Linked DNA regions of Homo sapiens. The protein of the gene in region 2 interacts with the protein of the main gene of each other region in a pairwise test. Each region holds a gene or a part of one and is shown on either strand. Other genes may lie near its edges.

What was found. The genes of interacting proteins can lie anywhere in the genome.
Region 1: the proteins of AKAP8L (region 2) and DMRT3 interact in binary tests that used the Homo sapiens proteins (3 or more experiments, as listed by UniProt).

Annotation. Positions count from the first base shown.
Region 1 is NC_000009.12:989,321-992,265, forward strand, and holds the end of DMRT3 (doublesex- and mab-3-related transcription factor 3), read left to right. Parts: intron 1-720; coding exon 721-1,685; 3' UTR 1,686-2,412; downstream 2,413-2,945. UniProt on the Homo sapiens protein: Probable transcription factor that plays a role in configuring the spinal circuits controlling stride in vertebrates.
Region 2 is NC_000019.10:15,412,481-15,416,136, forward strand, and holds part of AKAP8L (A-kinase anchor protein 8-like), read right to left. Parts: intron 1-3,656. UniProt on the Homo sapiens protein: Could play a role in constitutive transport element (CTE)-mediated gene expression by association with DHX9. Increases CTE-dependent nuclear unspliced mRNA export.

The DNA.
Region 1 (2,945 bases), on a different chromosome or scaffold from region 2:
TCTCCAGCAACTTATCCTGCCATCCGGAATTCATAGCTGGTTTCGTTTGCTTTCTAGTACAAGTTATTGGCAACCAAGTTTGCCAATGCCTCAAGTGGCTTCTTATGAAAGATTTCAATGGATAGAGGTATCTTTCACTTCAGCAATTGAATTAGCTAGCTATTGTATATGGTAACCTGATGCAACTTACTGATTGGTTCATAAGACATATTTAACACAAAATCAGCCTATGGGAAAATAGATTTCAGATATTAAAATTCCCTGTGGGTATCTGGATGGTACTATCCCTAGATAACAGCTGGGGACCTTATTTGCAGAAGAGGAGCCGGAAGACAAGCTGAGCTGATTTTCCTGTTTCTCCCTGAGCTTTGCTCTTCCAGGAGTCCCCCACCCCTCCTCCCAAAGAGGCTCTCTATTGAGATTGTTACTGCTATGAAAGCCATATGTTACAGGTTCATGTAGCCATTCTATGTTGAAGGCAAGCTTCCTTGCACAAAGCATTCCAGGAAGCCACTCTGATTTCTAGATCTTTATTTACAGGGTTTTTGTTTCATTTGCCAGTGATATAGTTCGAATTTTTTTAAAAAGGCTTGTAGTATATTATGACCCATTGAGATGCATTTGCTCTTCCAAAAAGCACGTGTACAGGTCTCTTCTGAGCACATCTGCTCCTCTTTATGCACACCAGGAAAAGATTAACTCAGCTGTTCTGTTTTCCAGATTTGACTGAAGAACGACTTGGAGACGGCAAGTCGGCAGACAATACAGAGGTCTTCAGTGACAAAGACACTGACCAGAGGAGTTCCCCAGATGTGGCAAAGAGTAAGGGCTGCTTCACCCCTGAGAGCCCTGAGATAGTGTCCGTGGAGGAAGGGGGATACGCTGTCCAGAAAAACGGAGGCAACCCCGAGAGCCGCCCTGACAGCCCCAAGTGTCACGCGGAGCAGAATCACCTCCTGATTGAGGGCCCCTCGGGGACTGTTTCTCTGCCCTTCAGCTTGAAAGCCAACAGACCGCCGCTTGAAGTGTTAAAAAAGATATTCCCCAACCAGAAGCCAACGGTGCTTGAGCTCATCCTCAAGGGCTGTGGCGGGGACCTGGTGAGCGCCGTGGAAGTCCTTCTGTCCAGCCGATCCTCAGTCACGGGAGCAGAGCGAACTTCCGCAGAACCTGAGAGTCTAGCGTTGCCCTCCAATGGGCACATCTTTGAACACACCTTGAGCTCCTACCCCATCTCGTCTTCCAAATGGTCTGTGGGATCAGCCTTTCGAGTCCCAGACACGTTGAGGTTTTCTGCCGACTCTAGCAACGTTGTCCCCAGTCCCTTGGCTGGGCCTCTGCAGCCCCCTTTCCCCCAGCCACCCCGGTACCCGCTGATGCTGAGGAATACTTTGGCGAGAAGCCAGTCGAGCCCCTTTTTGCCCAATGATGTCACCCTGTGGAACACCATGACGCTGCAGCAGCAGTATCAGCTGAGGTCCCAGTATGTCAGTCCTTTCCCCAGTAACTCTACCAGCGTCTTCAGAAGCTCGCCCGTCCTTCCTGCCCGCGCCACGGAAGACCCTCGGATTTCCATCCCTGATGATGGGTGTCCATTTGTGTCAAAGCAGTCCATTTACACCGAGGACGACTATGACGAGAGGTCTGACTCCTCAGACTCTAGAACACTCAACACATCATCTTAAAGTGGTGCTGGATGGGTGGTGGCCAGGTGACATTTTCTGTGCGTTTTGACCCTGAGGCATCTGAGGAGAGGCCACATCTTGTGTATGCCCTTTCCTTCTGTTTGACAAAGTGACTGTGCTTGATTCTATACATTAGCAATAAAAACATAACTTATTTAACTTCTTGCACTTCACTGGAAAATGCCAAATAGCTCTGTTCTGTGGCTTTAGTGCTGAATGTTTATTGTAAAAGAGAGTCTAATGTTAAGAATAGTCTTGGGAAGGCTGGGTCCGTGGAAGATTTATTTGGGGATGTAAAGCTGAAGGTCAGCCTTGCACCTAAACCCAACCTGGAATGTTAAATGAAATAATATACTTGAATGCAATTTTGTAAAAGTGGATTCCTCAGGATATGTGAAACCTAAAGGAAGTGGTTCTGTTGCAAATGGACTATAAACAGGGACATTATATTCTTACACTAAAAATCCTTGCATTTTAAAGAGAGATGCACTTAAGAATAGAGTGAACTGCTCATATGCTTATTTAAGCTTGGACAGTTTTCAGAGACAAACCCCATTAAGAATTACTCTTTTCACATGGCTGAATCGAAACATGTGTAATGTCAATGTAAAACCAATCACAGCTGTGAACTGCATGAAATGTATTGTGAAACGAACACAAGATTAAGCTTTGTCAGGTTAATGTAGCATGTTAAGGACTCTAGAAAAAAATAAACTAAGGAGACGAGCGTGGTTTATGTCATTTCTACTTGTGGAAAGAGGATCTCTAAAAATAGAAACTTGATGTAAAAATGACTTTTACTAACGCATGGGCCAGGAATCAAATTATCAGTTAAATGAGACATTCCTGAGAAATATGAATGGCAAAGTTTTAGGGTTGCATTCAGAAAGATAATTTGTTCAAAATGGAGTTAATTCTCTCCATCCATTCACTTATTCAACAGATACTTACTGAGTGCCTACTATGTGTAAGAGAATGTGCTTTCCATGTATTGTCCAAGTTACCTACCCGTGAGTCCTAGATAAGCAGATATTTTAGTGGAGAATCCCATTGAAAACAAAGTAAAAATGGAAAACTCCCAACAATGTATAGTTGAGTGTGGGAAGCAAGGAAAGTGCTTAGCCCAGTACCTGACATAGGAAGTATGCAGTCCATGAAAACTACTGCTTCTATTAATGAAATTCAGTAGCCTTGCATTCAGAATATAGACGTGCATTCCTTCATTCTTACTTGGAGACCATGCCATTCTGGTTTGAGGCA
Region 2 (3,656 bases):
ATGCTAATCCTGACACTTGCTTTAAAACTACATTAAAAAAAGAAAAAACAACAACTCTACAGTTAGAAATACATATATATTTTTTTGAGACGGAGTCTCGCACTAGGTTGGAGTGCAGTGGCACGATCTCGGCTCACTGCAACCTCCACCTCCCGGGTTCAAGCGATTCTCCTGCCTCAGCCTTCTGAGTAGCTGGGACTACAGGCGCGTGCCACCATGTCCGGCTGATTTTTTTGTATTTTTAGTAGAGATGGGGTTTCACCATGTTAGCCAGGATGGTCTCGATCTCCTAACCTTGTGATCCGCCCGCCTTGGCCTCCCAAAGTGCTGGGATTACAGGCGTGAGCCACTGCGCCCGGCCAGAAATACATATTTTTGAATAATTTTCTCTCAGCACTGAAATTACGACAGATACCATAAGAGGCAGTATTTGCCTTTCCCATCAGAGCCAACTCATGACCTGAAAATTAAAGCCTATGCCTTTAACAGCTTGTTTACATCAAAAACCTACAGAAGTGCCTTCCCCCTGGGTAAGCGTTCTCTTATTTGTTGACAGTGTCTCTATTTTATCTCTTAAGACCACAGCAGCAGCAGCCAACAGCAAACAAGTGCTTTCCCTGCAGGGTGCTAAGAACATTTATCTGCAATGATCTCATTTCATCCTCACCACAGACAATAAGGGCAGGTGGGCAAGATTCCTTACTCTGCAATTCCCCCAGGTCCAAAAGGGTCTGAACACCAAGTGTTTTCTACCAGTGTGGTGCCAAAACTCACGCTGGAGCTGTTTTCACCTGTAAGGACATTTATAATCTTTCTTTGTCCTACTTAGTGCAGAATTAATCTATTTAAATACAAGGTGCTTCCCCAGACCCCACGTGACTTCTCTTAAGCTAGAATTCCAAAATACATCTAGCTCCAAGGGTTCCAAAGACGGAGCTGTGAACCCAGCTTCATCTTCACTTTCCAGAGTAGGGACTGGGACTTGAGGCAGGATAAAACCGAGGGTATACAGATCCAGTCTTCTACCTTCCCTAAGTAAAGAGGCTAGAAATCCATTCAAATGGATTCCTTCCAGGGATCTGGACCTTCCTGAGATGCCTAAAATCCAGGCATTGTTGATTAATAGCTGTCCATAAGAAACACTGAGAGCAGCTTTGAAGAGTTCACCCAGGGGAAAGCCTTATAATGTAAGGAATACCCAGCCCCTGCGGTCTCCACTGTTTGCTCAACTGGCCTCTGGAAACTTGTTCTTTCAGCAATTGGGCCACCAGTAAAATGGCCTCAGACTTTAGGTAATGTGATCTGTGAGTACTGCAACTGCAAATGACAGCCTACCACACCCTCACAAGATACAGTCAGCAAGCTGCTGAGCAAAATATCTGTGTCTGTTCAGGCGAGAGGGGCCCTGGTGCTTCCCTAGGAAGGAAAGACGATCCATCAAACCCTCCAAGATCAATGGCAATCTCTGCTCTAACTCTATACCCTGCACCACATTAACATTCTGTTCCACAATACCATCTGCAAAGATCGCAGAGCAGGCCCTTCTGTAGCCAGTTTTGGCTCCTATTATGAATAATTCTTTTTTTTTTTTTTTTTTTTTTGAGACGGAGTTTCACTCTTGTTGCCCAGGCTGGAGTGCAATGGTGCGATCTCGGTTCACCGCAACCTCCACTTCCCAGGCTCAAGCGATTCTCCTGCCTCAGCCTCCCGAGTAGCTGGGATTACAGGCATGCGCCACTACGCATTTTGTATTTTTAGTAGAGACGGGTTTTCTCCATGTTGGTCAGGCTGGTATCAAACTCCCGACCTCAGAAGATCTGCCCGCCTCGGTCTCCCAAAGTGCTGGGATTACAGGCGTGAGCCACCACGCCCGGCCTAAATTCTTAGCTGGTTTGTAAAGTGTTCTCTTGGTACAATTTATCAGCCTGATTAGCGCTGGTTGAAAAAAATAAAATATGCCCTATATGGCCCTATAAAGCTAAATGTTAGATCACAGATTTCTTTTTTTTTTTGTTTGTTTGTTTTTGAGACGGAGTCTCGCTCTGTCGCCCAGGCTGGAGTGCAGTGGCACGATCTTGGCTCACTGCAAGCTCCGCCTCCTGGGGTCACGCCATTCTCCTGCCTCAGCCTCCTGAGTAGCTGGGACTACAGGCACCTGCCACCACGCCTGGCTAATTTTTTGTATTTTTCACAGAGATGGGGTTTCGCTGTGTTAGCGAGGATGGTCTCGATCTCCTGACCTCGTGATCCGCCCACCTCGGCCTCCCAAAGTGCTGGGATTACAGGCGTGAGCCACCACGCCTAGCCCACGGATTTCTTTCTTTCTATTTTTATTAGAGACAGGGGGTCTCACTGTCATCCAGGCTGGAGTGCAGTGGCACAATCACTGCTCACTGTGGCCTCAGCCTCCGGGGCTCAAGTGATCCTCCTACTTCAGTCTCCTGTATAGCTGGGACTATAGCCACGCACCACCAGGCCCAGCTAATTTTTGTTTTCTTTTTCTTTTTTTGTTTTGAGAGACAGGGTCTCACTATGTTACCCATGCTGGTGTTGAATTCCTGGGCTTAAGCAATCCTCTCACTTTGAGACCATGGATTTCTAGTTCTGCAGCAACACTCCTTGCTTTTAACCAATCTCTCGTCAACTTTTTTTGCTCAAAAATACAAAAGCAGGCCAAATGCTGTGGCTCATGTCTGTAATACCAGTACTTTGGGAGGCTGAGTTGGGAGGATCACTTGAGCCCAGGAGTTCAAGACCTGCGTGGCAACATAGTGAGACCTCATCTCAGAAATAAAAAATTAGCCAGGCATGGTGGCATGCACATGTAGTCACAGCTACTTGGGAGGCTGAGGTGAGGTGGGAGGATTACTTGAGCACAGGAGGGCGAGGCTGCAGTGAGCTATGATTTTGTGCCACTGCACTCCAACCTGGGCAACATAGTGAGACCCTGTCTCAACAAAACAAAACAAATGCTTCTCAGTTTTATACTTTTCCTTTCTCCTTTTTAAAAAAGAGTATATATTTTCTTGAGACAGGATCTTGCTCTGTTGCCCAGGCTGGAGTGCAATGGCATGATCATAGCTCAGCAATGTTGAACTCCTGGGCTCCAGCAAACCTCCCAGTCAGCCGGGCGCAGTGGCTCATGCCCGTAATCCCAGCACCTTGGGAGGCCAGGGAGGGCGGATCACAAGGTCAGGAGATCAAGACCATCCTGGCTAACAAGGTGAAACCCCGTCTCTACTAAAAATACAAAAAATTAGCCGGGTGTGGTGGCGGGCACCTGTAGTCCCAGCTACTTGGGAGGCGGAGGCAGGAGAATGGCATGAACCTGGGAGGCGGAGCTTGCAGTGGGCCGAGATGGCGCCACTGCACTCCAGCCTGGGTGACAGAGCAAGACTCCGTCTCAAAAAAAAAAACAAAAAAAAAATCCCAGAGTCTCGCTGTCATCCAGGCTGGAGCACAGTGGCACAATCATGGCTCACTGCAGCCTCAACCTCGCAGAGCTAACTTTTTTATTTTTAATTTTTATAGAGAAAGGGTCTTGCTATGTTGCCCAGGCTCATCTCAAACTCCTGGCCTCAAGCAATCTTCCTGCCTCGGCCTCCCAAAGTGTTGTGATTACAAGTGTGAGCCACCGTGCCTGATCTAAAAAAAAA